Linked DNA regions of Homo sapiens. The protein of the gene in region 3 purifies or fractionates together with the protein of the main gene of each other region. This does not show direct contact. Each region holds a gene or a part of one and is shown on either strand. Other genes may lie near its edges.

Region 1 (4,709 bases), on a different chromosome or scaffold from region 3:
GTGGCAAGGGCACTAGGAGGAAAGCTGTGAATAAATAACAGAGGCATGCGTGCAGGGCAGTCAGCCTAAACTCCCAGTAGCAAGCACGATTTGCTGTGGCAGGCCCGATAGGCCTGTGCTTCTGTAGTTTCTGTCCTTGTTTATGATGTATTATTTGTCGTGGAGAGTGAAAAGCTCCAATATGTATTTAATGTCCAAAGTATTTTCTTAACTGAGCTTTGAGATCACAAATGTTTTAGTAGTGTTTTCAACATAGACCAGTGATGACTAGATTGCCAATCATCATTGCCAATGATGCCTGTTTATTTATAAAAATAATATATTGTAATGATACAGGACTAAATTTAAGTTAAATCACTTTTTTCATTCTGAAACTTCATAAAATCTCCCTTAAAAGAGGAGACAGGCATTTCATGTGCCTGGAGAAGACTGTTTTTTTTTTGTTTTGTTTTGTTTTGTTTTGAGACAGAGTCTTGCTCTGTTGCCCAGGCTGGAGTGCAGTGGTGCGATCTTGGCTCACTGCAACCTCTGCTTCCTGGGTTCAGGTGATTCTTCTGTCTCAGCCTCCTGAGCAGCTGAGACTACAGGTGCACACCACCATGCCTGGCTAATTTTTTGTAGTTTTAGTAGAGATGGGATTTCACCATGCTGGCCAGGCTGGTCTTGAACTCCTGACCTTGTGCTCTACCCGCCTTGGCCTCCCCAGGTGCTGAGATTACAGGCGTGAGCCACCGCACCCAGCCAAGAAGACTGTTTTAAAGCTTCGGGTGAACTCTAGTCCCTGTCTTCATGCCCGCTGGCAGTAGGTTGAAAACCATTGTCTCTGTCAGTTATTGAGTATGAGTTGAGCATGATGTATGTGCCAGGTGCTCACGTGGTGAGGGGAGGAAGAGTGCTGTAGTGTTGAGGGGCACAAGGTAGTTGCAGACGCAGCATCTTCAAGTCATTTTTTCTTCTTGTGACCATGTAGCTACTATGCTTGTTAACATTTAGTGAAGCTTGCATGGCTCTGTGCTCAGCCATTCCGTCCTCACAACATCCTTAGCAGCAACTTTACTGTTGTTCTCCTCATCTAACAAAGGAGGAGGCAGGCACAGAGGGGCTAAGTCACTTCTAAAGTACCCACGGCTGGTGAGAGGTGGCATGAGGATGGATGGAGTTGGGATCGAGCCCCGGCAGCGTGCTCCATGGCCTGTGCGTTCACAGGAAAGGAAACTCATACAATTATTATTTCAAATCAAGAGTTTTAAGTGAGTTAGTTTTAGTTTTTTATTTTGGGTGGGGGTGAGGTAGGAAGTAGAATTTCACTGAATGCTCTGGAAACTTGTTTATGCTTTGTAGAAAATAGTCTGCAAATTTAGAACTAAACTGGAGGACAGCTGTCTATGTGAAGTTTAGGCATAACTATTTCTGCCATGCTTGAATTTCTGTTAGGTGATATAGGTTGACACTCTGGAACTTCTTTTTTCCTAGCAGCAAAGTTTGGTAAATTTTCCGGCAAAGATGATGGCTCTAGTTTTAAAGCAGCGTTGCTGTCAGGCCCTCCTGGTGTTGGCAAAACCACCACAGCTTCCCTGGTGTGTCAGGTGGGTGCGTTGTCACAGTGTGGTCGGACAGATAACCTCGAGTGGTCATGGCTAGGAGATAAAAGTGTGTACCCACATCTGTGCGTGTGCATGTGTGTGTGTGGTGTCTATATATAAACTGTGTTTATTTTTCTAAGATAAAACCTTTAGAACCTGTTTTGGTTCTGGCGATGTTTGTAATTTTAATCCTTTTAAAATATTGGTAATTAAAGTAATAAGCAATACTTACCAACGAGCGAGGCAGTGTACTAAGCACGTGGGTGTATTATAGATAACAAAAACATGTATTCTAGACTCTGAAAGATGCAAATATCTTAATGCCTTTGAATAATTCTGTGTACTGAATAATTATCTGTACTGTCATCATCCACATGTGTCAAATGAAATAGGCTTAGGGAGGAGGGTGGAGGCCCAGTTTTCACCCGGTAGCGCGACTCAGGGTTCTGCTCTTCAGCACTGTGTGATCCTGCCTTCGTTCCTATTGTCTCTATTGCTACTGAATCCCTGTAGACAATGGGAGAACTTGACTTGCTTAGGCACTAGAGCAGATCAGAGTTCACGTGTTAGTATCACAGTGATGAAATAAGAGATTAGAAATTTATTGCTGGATTTCTCAATCCTCTGCTGCATAAGCTTGTGGTTTCTTTTGTTTTTTTGTTGTATGCATCTGCATAAAATTTAAATAAAATTTTATCTGTTTCCACTGTGTTTATAAACATTAATGAAAAAGCAAAACAACATTTTTTTCCTAGTCCCTACAGTTGTGAACACAACTCTTTTTCTCTCTTTATTATTATCATTATATTTTTTATGAATTAAGGCATAAGGTAATCAGTTTTGGGAAATGAATCAGAAGAATTTGAATTTTCCTGATTTCAGAGGAAAATAGTTTATTGGGATAGTGTCGTGACAAAGAATGATTTAACTTTATAAATTATCTTAGAGAGGATTACTTTTTGATATCTTATTTTATTTTTTTGTTTTGAGACACAGTTTTACTCTGCCACCCAGGCTGGAGTGTAATGGCACGGTCTCGGTTCACTGCAACTTCTGCCTCCCAGGTTCAAGTGATTCTCATGCCTCACCCTCCAGAGTAGCTGAGACTACAGGAACACGCCACCACGCCCAGCTAATTTTTTGTATTTTTAGTCGAGATGGGGTTTCACCATGTTGGCCAGGCTGGTTTCAAACTCCTGACCTCAATTAATCCATCCACTTTGGACTCCCAAAAGCGCTGGTATTACAGGTGTGAGTCAACGCACCTGGCTGGTATCTTATACTAGATTAATTCTGTGTCTGATAGTGAATTGTTGGGATGATTATGTTTAATCCTTTTTTTAGGACTTTAAGAAGTAAATTTAGTAAAATTGCTTGTTTGAATATACTCTTCCAGATTAGTGATTTGTCAGCTGAAGTTTTAAGACCAAACTTATTTGTGTTTGTATGTGTATGTTATATGTATGTATATGATATTCTAAAAATTTCTAATATTGTAAGGCATACTATAGTTAATCTCATTGTCTGTTAGTATCATACTTTATACTTTACCTATGGGTTTTTATATTAATTTTGTACCTTCTTTCTTTCTTAACTGGCCTTTCTTGGCGGGGGTGGTGGAGTTAATTTGTATTGTGCCTTCAGTGGTTTCCAATATTTTGATTAGGAGTTGGGATACAGCTACGTGGAACTGAATGCAAGTGACACCCGGAGTAAGAGCAGTTTGAAGGCGATTGTTGCTGAGTCACTGAACAATACCAGCATCAAAGGCTTTTATTCAAGTATGTGGCTTTTTGACCTCCTGTTGTTGTTATATAAGAAAAATATGTTCATTTCAATGTTCAGTAACCAGTATTGAACACAGGTTGTGTGCCAAGCACCCTACTAAATTCTGGGGCTAACAAGAGAATAAGAAAGCCGTCTGACATCACTCTTATGGGGCAGTACTTACCCTTTCGTAGGTCTTAGAGGTTTCTAAGAATGTGATAAAAATGTGTACATGCACATATTCGTTTTTCATGATTTTAGAGGATTCACAGGTGAATCCTGTAAAGAGAGAAAGAAAATAAAAAACCATGTGTAATGCAGTGTGACTTATTACCTCATTACCTTATTAACCTCACTCTGCATGTATGTAATAAAGTATGTAATACAGAGTGAGGTAATAAGGCCAGCAGATGAAGAAGTAATTATGCTTGGGGCATTGAGTTAAAGGGGTGATAATTGTTTTGAAAGACCTCAAAGAATGAGAAAGAAAACTATTTGGAGGTGGAAGAGGTCACTGCAGGCAAAGGTAGTAAAAGAGAAGACAGTGTGCAAATGCCCACTGTGTTTCAGGTTGTAGCTAGTGGTCCTCTATGGCCAGAGTTCATGGAAAATAAGATGCTCAAGTTAAGGACCGCACAGTGCCTATTTAGAGTCTATGGTGTGTTGTTTTGTCACCTGAATTCTTGGTGCCTTCACATTGTTCAAAATAATTTGCTCAGGAAATGTCACTCTTAGACGTGGCTGGTGGGAGGGTAGATTGGTACAACTCTGGAGAGAGTCCAGCAATATTTCTCAAATTACACATACCGTCTAGCCCAGAAATTCCAATTGCTGGAATTTAGCTATTATTTTATATGTGCAAAGTGGCATATATATGCCATATAGATAAGGATAGTCATTTAGTATGACATAATAGAAAAAAGCTTGGAAGCATCCTATATATTTCATTAATGGTGATTAAGTAAAGTGTGTGATACAAGTGTAGAATGGAGTATTAAATTGCCTTAAAAAATGAAGTGTTCTGTATCTGTAAGATAAAGAATGAATCACCAAAATACATAAAATGACAAAACTGGCTGGGCATGTTGGCTCACGCCTGTAATCCCAGCACTTTGGGAGGCTGAGGCGGACAGATCACCTGAGGTCAGGAGTTTGAGACCAGCCTGGTCAACATGGTGAAACACCGTCTCTACTAAAAATACAAAAATTAGCTGGGTGTGGTGGCGTGCGCCTGTAATCTCAGCTACTTGGGAGGCTGAGGCAAAAGAATTGCTTGAACCCGGGAGGCGGAGGTTGCAGTGAGCCAATATCGTGCCATTGCACTCCAGCTTGGGCAACGAGTGAAACTCTGTCTCAAAA
Region 2 (5,503 bases), on a different chromosome or scaffold from region 3:
ACTATTATGAAGGGAAACAAGCTAAAATTGAAAAATTTTTAACAACTGGATGGACAGCATGTGCCAATGCACTCTCTTAATATTTATGAGAAACTGTTAGATTAAAAGAGACTCCAAAAATAAGAAAAAAAAAAAAAAACAGCTGAAAAATGAAGACATTACCATAATTCTTGCTGGGCAGGGTCTTAAACACTGCAATGAGTTCCGCATTGTACCCAATCAACACCTGGAAACGATCGCCGTTCCTTACGCACTTTCCCTTCTGAGAGTTCACTCCTTTTTGGACTGAGGACCCTGACTTCTGCTGGAGTCTTCCTTCTGTCCTGGGCGTTACACTCTCTGAGCTAGAATGGATGTAAGAAATGTTCTGCCCCGAAGGGGAGGCTTTTGCTGTCTTGGCCTCTAACTTAGCATCCCTGGGAGGCTGTCCAGAGGAATGAGCTGGTGTCTCTTGGGAACTCTTTGGTTTGGCCAGAGGCTTATGAGTTGGGTTAGCAAAGGGTGTGAACCTGATCTCAGGTGAAGCCTGAGCATGACCTTGACCTAACTCATAACTCAAGAGCTGTTGTTTAGGGACCTCTGGAGGACTTTGTGCCAAGGGAGGAGAGATTCCAGTGAGAGCCATTTGACTACGTGGACTGTGGCCTGGGCAGGCTGTGGGCATTTCTTCTGGCTTTTTCCATATTCCCTTTGCCTGAAAACTGTGGGAATCATGAGGTCTTTGGTCAGCATTAGATGAGCTACTGAGATTCTGTTGCTTGAAAATGACACCATGGCTCACTGGCTTACAAGACTCCCTTGGGAAATTTTGGGATGGGCCTTGCTTGGCCTGGAATGGGTTGCCAGCAATGGAGGTGCCCGAGCTAGTCCTCTGATGCTGTTCTGCCAATAACTTCTCAGCTCTGCGGGCCAGAGCCTTTTGTCGATTCTCTTCAATCTTTTTCCTCTGCTCCTCTGTAAGAGGCAAGGACATTTTCACAGAGAAATGCTTATGCAGGAATGTCAACCTTTAATTGGAAAGTTGGCAAAAGCTGTGGAAGAAAGTAAGAAGAATGAAATGAACATTACATGTATTAATTGTCATACTCCAACCATGATTTTAACAAGCTTTTGTCCCAGAAAATGCATAATGAGCACAACTAAAGGATGTATTAAAGTTTCTTTTATAATTGCACACACACTGAAATAGTAGGCAGCATATGCTGAAATAAAGACCCTGATCAAAAAGCAAAAAGCAGGTCGGGTGTAATCCCAGCACTTTGGGAAGCTGAGGCAGGTGGATCACTTGAGGTCAGGAGTTTGAGACCAGCCTGGCCAACATGGTGAAACCCCATCTCTACTAAAAATACAAAATTAGCCAGGCGTGGTGGTGCACGCCTGTAATCCCAGCTACTTGGGAGGCTGAGGCAGGAGAATTGCTTGAACCTGGGAGGCAGAGGTTGCAGTAAGCCAAGATCGTGCCACCGCACTCCAGCCTGGGCAACAAGAACAAAACTCTCAAAGAAAAAAAAAAAAGCAAAAAGCAAATCCAAAGCTAAAAAGGCATTTCAGAGGCAATATTTCTCTCCTTCTCACATGGTAACTCACATGGTAACTCAATGGTTCGAAGCACTGCCAAAATGGTGAGTAACTCTTCTGATAACTCACATGGCCCAGCCAAGGTGAGTTATCAGAACCTAAGAAAGTTATGCATTGCAACGTAAATCCATCAGATAATGAGAAAGGTGACATTTTTAACCAGAAAGCATAATAGATTAGACTGAAATAGACCAACCAACCACATACCATGGCGTGACACTTGCTAACATAGTCTTTTTCCAACCTAGAAGAAGGAAAAAAGCATTAGCCTCCCATAGCCTGCACACTGAATTCTCCCCTCACATTCACCCCTTTTTATCATTCCTGGCAAATCAGTCTGCCTGTGGCTCAGTGCAAGCCAGAGCAGCTGGCCTTAGGACCTGACTTCCAACACAACACACGGAGCAACTGACTGACTCTCCTGGGAAAATAAGGAGCAGAAAAAAAAAAATTATGTGTTCACTGTGCAAATTAAGATGCTACATAAAGATGTAAACAAAAAAGAATAAAATTACTCTGTAATCTTACCAGCCATCAATAACCACAGTTGAAATTAATAATTTAGAGTATATAGTTCGGATTTTTTTTCATCCATAACAAAATGGCACATATTTAGGAGATATAAGAATTTATTATAAAGTAGGATCATTGTAAACATTCCATATTGCACCCTGATTATTTTTTTCCATGAATTTACCCGGAACATTTATTTTCCTATGAGCTGAGACATGTTTACAATATTTTAGAAGCAGCGGGCAGGACACACCAATTTGTCTGGCTTGGTTCAGACTAAATAGGCTGCATCTAATGTAATGCTGTGTAACGGTTACAATGATGATGTAGGGGTACTCCAGTAGCATTGCTTAGGCCTCTGGGCAGCTATAGGGTTCAAAGCCTTCCTTCCCTGCTGGGGCTCCCTTTGGCCAGAACCCAACCCCCCTCCCCCCTCCCCCACCACGAAGTATCTATCCCCAGAGAACTTCCACCTTCTCCAACCATTAGCAGTTAGGAAGGGGTGAAGAGGTTAGGAAAAGGTTTTGGAGGTGCACAGCAGAAGCCCTCAGTCTCTCTGGGTAACACACTCCTGCCTAAGTTTCCAACCAGGGATCTCCTGCACCTCCAAACTCCCCAGATCCCAGGCCTGGTAAGCTGTCTCCACTAACCAGAGAGACTCGGCCATAAGACCCACTGATCAGCCCCAAACCATAAATCCATTCCGCCACATGGACGCCCCTCTTCCCCTCTAGGCAGGGACCTCTGCCCCCCGCCCCCCACGCCCCGCATTTCGGGGCGAGCCTCACCCAGCCTCAAGGTAAGCGGGCGCCACGCCCCACTCCCACCCCTACGATCTCCACTTGGATTCACCCTTCCCATTGGCCCACTTCCTCCTCCAGGCTGGCATTGGTCTCGTCCGCCTCCGCCGCCTTCCTGCCAGTCTACCACTTTCTCACCCAGGGAGGCCTAGAACGCGAGCCACATTCGCCCCCGGCCCTGACCCCAGGCGCGACTGCAGAGCCTCCCGAGCGGGACCGGTCTTCCGAGTGGACGGTTAGGCCACGGGTATTCAAGCGCTGCGAGTTCGCCAGCCTTATTGTAGCGGCCAGGCCTGAAGGGCTAGGCCACCGCTGAACTACATTTCCCAGCAGGCAACGCGGCCGCAGTTTCGCTTCCAAAAGTAAGAATGATGAGACGAGAACGCGAGCGGGGCTGCAGTGTCTTCTGGGATTTGTAGTTCGGGCCGGGAGCCTGGCGAGAAACGGGAGCTGCAACGTCATGGGCGGGGCGAAAGTGGTGCACCCTGGAAGTTGTAGTTCTCCAGAGGTTTAGCCAAACACTAGGTCCTGAAAGCCTAGGACGTTGAGGTTTCCAAACCCGGAGTCGGCTGTCTCCAGAGGACATCCCAGACAGCCATACTAACTTGGCAGCTCTTAATAAAAAGTATCTCCCCGGGGCATCCATTCCTGGTATTGCTATACTTGCCATTTAAGCCCCACCCGCTGCGCCCGGCTGCCATCATCGTCATCATTGTAGTCATCAGTCATTGTGTTTAGCATAAATATGAGTTACCTCATTTAACCGCACTACAACCTATGGAACACATTCTTGTCCCCCTTTTACAGAGGGGGAAACTAAGACAGCTATTTGATAATATTTCTCAAGGCTTTATTAAGCTAGCTTGTGATTCTGATTCCATAGCCCCTCCTCTTGAGAGAAGATTAGTCATGAGACTTAAAGAGTCACTTTACCCCATCCTGAGCACCAACATCCTGAGCCATCCTGAGCACCATTGGTGATAAATATAACATTTCTCTATCAGTGTGCATATGAATGTTGCTATTGTTCTATTTTCAAACATGGCTCATTTAAAAACAAACAAGTCTACTAAAGGATTTGAAAAAATGGACCAGACATGCTAAGAAAAAGGAAGCACAGCAATGTGTGTAGTTTGATTTTTTTTTTTTTCATCCTTACCTGTACATGTATGTAAACTCATAAAGGTCTGGGAAGGAAACTTAAAAAGTCACCAAACTGTTCAGGAGCAGAGTGGCATGAAATACACTTTTCAGCTTTTTAATCTCTATTTTTCAGAATGATTTGAATTTTCTAAAATAATAATGTAGAATTTGTGTGACTTTTGAAACAATAAATAATCTCCCTTCTTCCTTCCTTCCTTTTTTTTTTTTTTTTTTTTTTTTTTTTTTTTTTTGAGACAGAGTCTCACTCTGTTGCCTAGACTGAGTGTGGTGGTGTAATCTTGGCTCACTTCAGCCTCTGACTCCTGGGTTCAAATGATTCTCCTGCCTCAGCCTCCCAAATAGCTGGGATTATGGGTGCATGCCGCCATGCCTGGCTGATTTTAGTAATTTTAGTAGAGACAGAGTTTTACCATGTTGGCCAGGCTGGTCTCAAACTCCTGACCTCAAGTGATCCACCTGCCTCAGCCTCCCAAAGTGCTGGGATTACAGGTGTGAGCCACTGCGCCCAGCCCATTTGTCTTAAATGACAAAGACATTGCCTGTCTTAGGGGATCTGTGTGAGGTTTAGTAGTAGAAAGTATTCAAATCTCAGCTCTACCCCTTTTATTGACCTGACATACCCAGTGATTGTGCCTCCATTTTCTCATCTGTAAAGTAAATGTAGAAAACAATACCACCTTGGTAAATCTTGTTATTAGAATCAAAGCAAGGTATTATGAGGGGAAGTGCTTAGTGAACTGTGAAATCCCAGAACAGGTAAGAGAGGGATGTTGTTATTATTTGAGGTAAATCTCTTATATCGTCCGTTTCTCTATACCTAGCGCTCATTTCCTACTGTATAGTGTGAACAGAAACTAGTTAATGAACACCTGTCCCTGCCCTTCCTGTCTCCCAACAGTCAGTTAATTTACTAAGAAAGCTGGGTGCCGTGCACTTGACTCATGTCTGTCACCGATTCATATGACCATCACTTCGCTTTCCTGGGCCTCAGTCGTCTCACCTGTAAAATGATACCCTGCTTTGACATATGCTAAGAGGGCCTGTGGACCAGTGGATCCTCATGTTAGATACTAGAATTCTTATAGATTCACAGATCTTACCCCAGAAATTCCAATTCAGTAAGTCTGGAATTGAGTTAGAAGATGTGATTACCTTTCTAGCTCTAACATTCTAAAATTCTAAGAATAGGAAATTAAAATATGCCTTTGAGGCCGGGTGTGGTGGCTCATGTCTATAATCCCAGCACTTTGGGAGGCCAAAGCAGGCAGATCACCTGAGGTCAGGAGTTCGAGACTAGCCTAGCCAATATGGTGAAACCTCATCTCTACAAAACCCCATCTAATACAAAAAGTAGCTGGGCGTGGTGGTGCATGCCTGTAATTCCAGCTACTCAGGAAGCTGAGGCAGGAGAATCGCTTGAACCCTGGAGGCGGAGGTTGCAGTGAGCT
Region 3 (4,709 bases):
ATTCTGTCACTCAGGCTGGAGTGCACTGGCTTGATCACAGCTCACTGCAGTCTCAACCTCCCCAGGCTCCCAAGCTGGGACTACAGGTGCTGCCACACCTGGCTAATTGTATTTTTTGTAGAGACTGAGTTGTGTCATGTTGCCCAGGCTGCTCTCAAACTCCTGGGCTCAAGGGATCTCCCTGCCTCAACCTCTCAAAGTGCCAGGAGTTACAGGTGTGAGCGACTGTGCCCAGCCAACTGTTCTTAATAGCATCTAGAATGGTGAATCCTTTTCAGGTTTTCAATTTACTTTCCCCAGATCCATCAGAGGAATCACTGTGGCAACTATCGCCTCATGAAATATGTCTCTTAGACTTAAAAAGTCAAAATTACTCCTTGATTTGCATGGGCTGCAGAATAGATGTTGTTATCAAGCATGAAAACAATATTAATCTCCTTGTTCTGTGCATCTCCATTGAGCCCTCGGGTGAACAGGTGCATTGTCAATATATTAATCTCCTTGTACTGTGTGTCTCCATTGAGCCCTTGGGTGAACAGGTGCATTGTCAATATATTAATCTCCTTGTACTGTGTGTCTCCATTGAGCTCTTGTGTGAACAGGTGCATTGTCAATATATTAATCTCCTCGTACTGTGTGTCTCCATTGAGCTCTCGGGTGAACAGGTGCATTGTCAATGAGCAGTCATATTTTTAAAGGAGTCTCTTTTTCTGAGTAGTAGGTCTCAACAGTGGGCTTAAAATATTCAATAAACTACACTATAAATAGATATGCTGTCATCCAAGCTTTGATATTCTATTTATAAAGCAGAGGCAAAGTAGATTTAGCATAGTTCTTATGAGCCCTAAGATTTTTGACATGGTCAATGAGCACTGGCTTCACCTTATAGTCCCCAGCTGCATTCGCGCCTAACAGGAGAGTCAGCCTTTCCTTTGAAGCTTTGAAGCCAGGCATTGATTTCTACTCTCTAGGACGAATGTTCTTGATGGCATCTTCTTCCAGAAGGCTATTCTGTCTACGTTGAAAATCTGTTGTTGAGTGCAGCCACCTTCATTGGTGGTCCTAGCTAGATCTTCTGGATAACTTGCTGCAGCTTCTCCATCAGCACTTGCTGCTTCACCTTGCACTTTTGTTATGGTGACGGCTTATTTCCTTAAACCTCATGAACCAACATCTGCTGGCTGCCATCTTTTCTTCTGCAGCTTTTTTTTTTTTTTTTTTTGAGACAGAGTCTCACTCTGTCACCCAGGCTGGAGTGCAGTGGTGCAATCACAGCTCACCTCAGCCTCTGGAGTAGCTGGGACTACAGGTGCACACCACCGTGCCCTGACAGATTTTTGTAGAGACTAGGTCTCACTATGTTGCCTGGCTGGTATCGAACTCCTTGGCTTAGGCAATCATGTTGCCTCTGCCTCCCAAAGTGCTGGGATTACAGGTGTGAGCCACTGCACCTGGCCTCTTCTGCAGCTTCCTGACCTCTCTCAGCCTTCACAGAATTGAAGAAAGGTGAGGCCTTGCTCTGGGTTAGGCTTTGGCTTAAGAGAATGTTGTGGCTTGCTTGATATTCTATCTAGACCACTACAGCTTACTCCATATCAGCAGTAAGGCTGTTTGCTTTCTTATTTGTGTATTCAAAGAAGAGAGACAGGAATACTTGATTGGAGGATCAGTCAGCATACATACAACATTCATCAATATAAGTTCCCCATCTTATATGGGTGTAGTTGGTGGCACCCCAGAACAACTACAATAGTGACGTTAAAGATCACTGTAGGCCAGGCGCGGTGGCTCATTCCTGTAATCCCAGCACTTTGGGAGGCTGAGGCAGGCGGATCACCTGAAGTCAGGAGATCGAGACCATCCTGACCAACGTGGTTAAAACCCCGTCTCTACTAAAAATACAAAAATTAGCTGGGCGTAGTGGTGCATGCCTGTAGTCCCAGCTTCTCGGGAGGCTGAGGCAGGAGAATCGTTTGACCCTGGGAGGCGGAGATTTCAGTGAGCTGAGATCATGCCACTGCACTCCAGCCTGGTGACAGAGCGAGACTCCGTCTCAGAAAAAAAAAAAAAATCACCATAACAGATATGATAATAATGAAAAAGGGCCAGGCATGGTGGCTTACTCCTATAATCCTAGCACTTCGGGAGGCCAAGGTGGGTGGATCACTTGAGGTTTGGAGTTCGAGACCAGCCTACCCAACATGGCAAAACCCCATCTCTACTAAAAAATACAAAAATTAGCCAGGCGTGGTAGTGCACGCCTGTAGTCCCAGCTACTTGGGTGGCTGAGGCAGGAGAATCACTTGAACCTGGGAGGTGGAGGCTGCAGTGATCAGAGATTACACCACTCACTGCACCCCAGCCTGGGCGACAGAGCGAGACTCTGTCTCAAAAAATACATATATAATGAAAAAGTTTGAAATCTTGCAAGAATTACTGTCTTTATGTGACACAGAGACATAAAGTGAGCACCTGCTATTGGGAAAATAGTGCATTTACTTGACCCAGGGGTGCCACAAGTCTTCAATCTGTAAAAAATGCCGTATCTGTCAAGTGCAGTAAAGCAAAGCACAATAAAGTGAGGTGTGTCTGTAGTTGCAGCAGAGACTGTGACCAAATGGCTGCTAAGGCCTGAAATATTTACTGTTTGGCTTTTTACAGAAGCAGCTTGCTGATCCCTGGCCTAAACAAGGAAAAGGTGAATCTAGGCCTAGACACGACTGCCGTGTTTTGAGCGCGGGAGGGATGGTTGATCGTTGCTGCACTGGGTGTTTGTGGTCCGCATTCTGTATTTCCTAGATCTGTGGCCTTTGGAGGGTCAGAGGATCGGGAGGAACAAATCTTTGTCTTTCATACAGTGTTCAAGCAAACAGGAAAACAATTTCACTTTTAATTAACTTAGTGTAATTTAGGATTAACTCTTTTATTGTGAAGGAATTATCTGCCTCAGAACTTGGCTTATTAGAACTTGGCTTATTACCTTCATGGGTTTTGTACTCGGCACATGTGATTTCTAAAACTACAGAATGAATGATTCCCTGTGATCATGTGTAATCTTGAGGATGTAGAAACACTTACCACCTAAACGTAAGGGCAGGCTTTGAGCTGCCTCTCGGTCCGATCCTGGGCGGGCTCGCGACTCCGTGCCTCATGCTGTTCTTTTCTCCCGAAGCCGGACTACTTTAGTTCTGTGGCCACAGTGGTGTATCTTCGCAAAGAGAACTGCATGTACCAAGCCTGCCCGACTCAGGACTGCAATAAGAAAGTGATTGATCAACAGAATGGATTGTACCGCTGTGAGAAGTGCGACACCGAATTTCCCAATTTCAAGTACCGCATGATCCTGTCAGTAAGTAGCCTCGGTAGATGAGAACCACGGTTGTGTTCACGGAGGCCCTCCCGTGTGCCAGGCACTGTGGTCACAACAGTAGAGACAAAGCATTCCTGGTAGGAAGCCCGCAGATGAGTAGGTGTGGAAGAGCTTATCCATCCGCTTTTTCATGCCAGAAAGTGGTGTTGAGATACCCCAGCTGATTCAGTCTTTCATGCACGTCATACAGCCATAGCGTCAGTGACACTTGCCTGCTAACTGCTATGAAGATAAATTAATTTGAAAACGGCATTTATAGACAGCACTAATTGTACTTACACAGCCAATGCCCGTATTTAGTCACTTTCATGTGGATAATCTATTCTCTAGCTTTAGTATAGCTGACTTCAGAGGAATGTGACGGTGTGCTGATGTGAGATTGTTGCTTTTTTGCATTTTAAGAATTGTTTCTTTCTGTTTTAAAAACCTTTTTAAAAAAGTTGTAAAGTTGGGTTTAAAAAAATTTTTTTTTTTTTTTAAGAAACAGGGGTCTCACTCTGTTGCCCAGAATAGAGTGCAATGGTATCATCACAGCTCATGGTGGCCCCAACCTCCCGGGCTTAAGCAGTCCTTCCACCTTGGCCTCCCAAGTAGCTGCAACTACAGCTGTGCACCACCACACCCAGCTAATTTTTAAAATTATTTTATTGTAGAGACAGGGTCTCGCTCTGCTGTTCAGGTTGGTCTCAAGTTCCTGGCCTCATGTCATCCTCCCACCTCAGCCTTCCAAAGTGCTGGCATTACAAGCCTGAGCCACTGCACCCGGCCTTAAGATTTTTATTTTGTTTTGTTTTGTTTTCAATGATAGAACTAGGCGATAATAGCAGTTTAAGAAAACAGTTTAAGGCCGGGCACAGTGGCTCACTTTTGTAATCCCAGCACTTTGGGAGGCCGAGGCGGGTGCGTCACCTGAGATCAGGAGTTTGAGACCAGCCTGGCCAACATGGTGAAACCCTGTCTCTACTAAAAATACAAAAATTAGCCGGGCGTGGTGGCGGGTGCCTGTAGTCCCAGCTACTCGGGAGGCTGAGGCAGGAGAATCGCTTGAACCCGGGAGGCAGAGGTTGCAGTGAGCCGAGATCACACCACTGCACTCCAGCCCGGGCGACAAGAGCAAAACTCCATCTCAAGAAAAGAGAAAAAGAAAACAGTTTCACATTTTTCCAAAGGATGATTTGGCAGTAATATATCAGAAGCCTGAAAAATGTTCATATTGGCCAGGCGCAGTGACTTGTGCCTGTAACCCCAGCACTTTGGAAGGCTGAGGCAGGATGATTGCTTGAGGCTGGGAGTTCGATATCAGCCTGGGCAACATGGCAAGACCCTGTCTCTACAAAAA
Region 4 (4,709 bases), on a different chromosome or scaffold from region 3:
TAATTTTTGTCATTCGGTTGGTAAATTAGGGTAAAGGAAAAGATTGTTGGAAATGAAGGCATAGAACTATTTCTATGGATATTGAAGTTGCTAAGAATGATCATAGTATAGGGGCTAGGAAAAGAAGGTTTTGATCCAGGTGTTAACATTTTTAGTAAATGAAAGGAGTGTCTAAGACTTCAGAAAATATTAGGCACTAAGAAAGGTAGATGATGCCATATTATGGTGACATGAGTTATTACAAAAATGGGGCTTAAAACAGGTTTGACAGTGGTGAAAGGGAGCAAAGGGGATGCCTCTTCTACTTCTAGGGCCCTGAATTGTGAAAGAAAAGTTGCCTGTGTGTTAGGGGGCTGTAGAGAAAATGGGGTGTCATGAACCAACCAGATTTTAGTTAAGTCAAGAAGGTGAAGTGAATATCCAGAGAAAGATTTTGTGTATAGAGAAGCTGACTGATGACCGATGGTATTTCTGAGGGCATTGTGGTAGGTATTGGGAGAATAGGAGGGGTAATAGCTTGGGTCAGATTAGCAGATGTCCTTCAGGTATTTAAAGATTGTTAAGACACTGCCACTGAACAATTAGATTGGATTCATTGACACAACAGTGTTGGTGGTTACATCAGCCCTAGATGACTCCATTGGATGATGATGGCTAACCTCTGAGGCTTAGTTTAGATTCTGGTGGTAAAAAATGTATACTGGGATATGAGGTGTAGTGTGGTCTAATGTTGAGGAAGGTTGGTTATCACTTAAAACTAGAAGGGGTGGAGGGATTGGCTTGCAGTAGTGTGATGATCAAAGCGATAAGCAAAGGCCTCCTTGGCATTGGCTCTGGCTCTAAGGCATTTTATGGTAGAGAACTGGCTGAAAGACTTCTCTTACATCCGCCAGCATTACTTATGGAAGCTGTATACCATTATTTCTTACTGCTGCTTTTGGAAATATTTTCTGAGTACTTAATACTTCATTTTCTCTTGAGCTTTGCCATTGAATTTTTTATTCCAATGATTACATCTTAATATTTTCATTTTCTTCATCTTTCTATTTTTTCTTAGTAACTTTCTGTCCTGGTTTCAAAGATTCAGTTCCCTCCTTTATTTCAGTGAGCATTTTGAACATACTTATTTTACAGTTTATTATGGATTACTGTAGCTCCATTTCTTCACAGGTAACTTTTTCAGTTTGTAGATTTCTTAGCTGTTTTTCTTGGCATTGCAGCCCCCAGTGAGTTTAGCAATTCAAATTTTAGTGTTCATCTGTTATGGGAGTTTTATATGATCCCTTCCCTGTGAAGCAGTTTCATGGTTCCTTCACACTGGCTGTTCACAGTCTCTGCTTTCAGACCAGGCCTTACATATACAGATTGCTCTATGCTTTCACTCTGTGTATATGCACAATTCTGGGTCCCTCTTCTATGTCCCTTATCTGCTAGGTCTTGGTCTTATAGAGGAACAATTTCTGTTTTTGGCAAGCTAGACCTGTCTGCCTGCAGTGCTATGTGATGGATGCAGCTCTTTAATCTCCTGCTCCTGTGTAGACAGTATTACCCCAATTCCCAGCTTTATGCTGGATGTTTAAGTTCAGCACCTTACCACTCTGTTGGGTGCTGAGAATTTAGTCCTAAAAACCCATATCCAGACTGGGCCCTACTTACCACTTTGGTTTTCCTTTCTGCTTCTCTTGTTTTGACTACAGATCTGAATATTTATTATTAATATTTCCTTTTTTTTTGGAGTGGTATGAGAGGTTTGTGCTATGCTCAGCCTTCTATCTCGACCCTAGAAGTAGAAAAATAGCTTTTAAATCCACTACAAAGAGCTTTTACTTATATAAGGTTAATAGGTGGTAGACAGTCTTTGACATGGGGTGAAAAAATCTAAAAGTTATAAAAATAAAACCAACTTGGCTGGGCATGGTGGCTCATGCCTGTAATCCCAGCACTTTGGGATGCTGAGGCAGAAGGATCACTTGAGTCCAGGAGTTTGAGACCAGCCTGGACGACATAGTGAGATCTCATCTCTAAAAAAAAAAAAATTAGCTGGGCGTGGTGGCGCATGCCTTTAGCCCCATCTACTTGGGAGGCTGAGATGGGAGGATTGCTGCAGTGAGCCGTGATGGTGCCACTGCACGCCAGCCTGGGCAACAGAGTGAGACCCTGTCTCAAAAAAAAAAAAAGCAAAGAAAAAAATTAAAATAAAAAAATAAAAACAACTTAATTATATCTCTGATACAGACTGTGATCAACCACTCTATGATTGTCCTATGTGTGGGCTCATATGTACAAATTACCATATTCTTCAGGAACATGTTGACTTGCATTTGGAAGAAAACAGCTTTCAGCAAGGTATGTTTATATGTTTGAAGATAAAAATATCATTTAATTTCTACTTTCTAGGACACATATCTAATTTTTAGATTTGTGATATGGAAAAAATATTTTAAAATACATCTTTTCCTTTAAAAGTGTTTTATTTACAAGTTGAGGCCATTTCTTTAGCAGCTAGAAGTATCTGAATATTGTATTTGGTCAGCGAAAATTGTTGAACTAGAAAACTGCCATATGGCACATAAAATTTTACAAATGAATGTGAACTATATAACCAAAACATCTTTCAGTGCATCTTGAGCTGCTTGAATAGCTTCTAAATGACTTACTGGTTTTATTGTGATTCTATAAAAGTTTTCCTTTCTCCCCTATGTTTTTTAATAGTGGCATTGTTTAAATAATCATTATGGTGGCTTAGAAGTGGAAAAATCCTATATGAATGTTAGAAGCCCACTGAACGAAAATAAAAAGTAGATCCCAAGAGAAACCAATTGTGTTTTACCCTATTTCAGTTTTTTAAGGTACGTAGATAGCTTCTGTTAAGGCAGAGGTCTTTAGTGTCCAGTATCAATGATCCTAGTACCAGTATCGGTGTTCATGGACAATGTTACTGCTCACTCACCCTAAGCCAAATATGAGATTATTGGGGCAAAGATGGAAAAGTTCCCTGCTCTGGTGGTTTCTGAATGTCTGCTAATTCTTACTCTTATTTATGATAGGCTTTGTATGAGCACGTATATTACAGTGTAAACCTATAGTGGGTAATAAGAAAAAGATATGGTCTAAGTAAATCACTGTAGATAACCTCAGGGGACACTAAACATTGAGTGTGACTTGTATATCCCCAAGAATGGAAGGGTGACCAAATAGGAAGATGTAGCAGCAGCTGAGAACTTTGAAAGGAAAGGAAGAATAGTCAGTGATATAATTAAACCATCAGGTCATGGGGTTAAGGAGACAAGATAGTGGCCAGAAGCCACTGACAAATGGATCTGGGGGACACCGAGTAGAGAAGATGCAGGATGAGATGTTGCAAAGTTTTACCATTTTTGGGGGCCAAACTGTAATTAAATTATTATCTAACACCTGCACTTTGTAAATGTGTATTTTTATGCTCTTTATTTTTTTTTTTTTCTCCCCTAGTATTTCTTTGAAAAATCAATCTGCCTTAGTTATGTTAAGGAGTATCAATGCAGGATGTTACTTAACGTTTTAAAATTCTGGTTTCCTCAGTAAATAATAATAACTACTTCATAAGATTGTTACAAAGATCAAATGATATAATTAATGAAAAGTGCTTGTCACAGCTTTAAACACTTAGTGAGGCTGGGCATGGTAGCTCACGCCTGTAATCTCAGCACTTTGGGAGGCCGAGGCTGGTGGATCACCTGAGGTTAGGAGTTTGAGACCAGCCTGACCAACATGGCGAAACTCCATCTCTACTAAAAATACAAAAATTAGCTGGGCATGGTGGCAGGCACCTGTAATCCCAGCTACTCAGGAGGCTGCAGCAGGAGAATCACTTGAACCTGGCAGGCAGAGGTTGCAGTGAGCTGAGATCGCACCATTGTACTCCAGCCTGGGCAATAAGAGCGAAACTCCGTCTCAAAAAACAAAAAACAGTGACTGTTAGTTGTCATTTAGATGGAGGTTATTCCTTACCAAAGCAGTTCTAAGTTTTGCTAAATTTGTACTCAGTTCCATATCATCACAGTCATGAATAAATGGCAAATAACAGCATTTACTCTATTTTAAAAACATATATTAAATAATAAATAATCTTTGATTGCAACAGTTATTTTATTCTGAACATTAACAATACCTAACAGGCATGGATAGAGTCCAGTGTTCTGGTGATCTACAATTGGCTCACCAGCTTCAGCAAGAAGAAGACAGAAAGAGGAGATCTGAAGAATCAAGACAAGAAATAGAAGAATTTCAGAAGCTGCAGGTACAAAGATTAATAACAATTATAATATTTTGATTTGGTAAAGTTATTTTTCAAATATGCTTTCCAGTGTATTATTTTTGTCCTTGTTATTATTCAAAAAAAATTTATACATGTTTGTAACAGACACCATTTATAAATATTCATTCTAGTGAGGCACAGGGGTAATCACTTCACATACAATATCTCAAAATCTTTGCAACATATTCATGAAGAAGTTACTTTAGGCCCTCCCACGCCCCCTTTTTTTTCAGATGAAGAAATGGAGACAGAGAATGGTTAAGTAATTTGCTCAGTGTCAGGCAGCTAATTAGTGATAAAGCTTGCATTCAAACCTGTGTAAGTTGATGGGACAAATTAGGAAACCAAGACTCAGAATTTAAGTGTTTGTATAGATGCTTGGAAGCGAAATTTATACTTAGAATTAATGTCT

What was found. The genes of interacting proteins can lie anywhere in the genome.
Region 1: the proteins of RPA1 (region 3) and RFC1 purify together in Homo sapiens (affinity purification with mass spectrometry; 3 studies listed by BioGRID, with this or other methods). This does not show direct contact.
Region 2: the proteins of RPA1 (region 3) and SMARCAL1 purify together in Homo sapiens (affinity purification with mass spectrometry; 8 studies listed by BioGRID and IntAct, with this or other methods). This does not show direct contact.
Region 4: the proteins of RPA1 (region 3) and ZUP1 purify together in Homo sapiens (affinity purification with western blotting; 4 studies listed by BioGRID, with this or other methods). This does not show direct contact.

The regions. Positions count from the first base shown.
Region 1 is NC_000004.12:39,303,469-39,308,177, reverse strand, and holds part of RFC1 (replication factor C subunit 1), read left to right. Parts: intron 1-1,473; coding exon of another isoform or gene 1,474-1,476; coding exon 1,477-1,586; intron 1,587-3,249; coding exon 3,250-3,364; intron 3,365-4,709. UniProt on the Homo sapiens protein: Subunit of the replication factor C (RFC) complex which acts during elongation of primed DNA templates by DNA polymerases delta and epsilon, and is necessary for ATP-dependent loading of proliferating cell nuclear antigen (PCNA) onto primed DNA.
Region 2 is NC_000002.12:216,410,175-216,415,677, reverse strand, and holds the start of SMARCAL1 (SWI/SNF-related matrix-associated actin-dependent regulator of chromatin subfamily A-like protein 1), read right to left. Parts: upstream 3,195-5,503; 5' UTR 3,030-3,194; intron 2,914-3,029; exon of another isoform or gene 2,880-2,913; intron 1,823-2,879; 5' UTR 1,786-1,822; intron 1,032-1,785; 5' UTR 974-1,031; coding exon 163-973; intron 1-162. UniProt on the Homo sapiens protein: ATP-dependent annealing helicase that binds selectively to fork DNA relative to ssDNA or dsDNA and catalyzes the rewinding of the stably unwound DNA. Rewinds single-stranded DNA bubbles that are stably bound by replication protein A (RPA).
Region 3 is NC_000017.11:1,885,503-1,890,211, forward strand, and holds part of RPA1 (replication protein A 70 kDa DNA-binding subunit), read left to right. Parts: intron 1-3,172; coding exon 3,173-3,349; intron 3,350-4,709. UniProt on the Homo sapiens protein: As part of the heterotrimeric replication protein A complex (RPA/RP-A), binds and stabilizes single-stranded DNA intermediates that form during DNA replication or upon DNA stress.
Region 4 is NC_000006.12:116,658,373-116,663,081, reverse strand, and holds part of ZUP1 (zinc finger-containing ubiquitin peptidase 1), read left to right. Parts: intron 1-2,235; coding exon 2,236-2,346; intron 2,347-2,712; exon of another isoform or gene 2,713-2,849; intron 2,850-4,157; coding exon 4,158-4,279; intron 4,280-4,709. UniProt on the Homo sapiens protein: Deubiquitinase with endodeubiquitinase activity that specifically interacts with and cleaves 'Lys-63'-linked long polyubiquitin chains. Shows only weak activity against 'Lys-11' and 'Lys-48'-linked chains.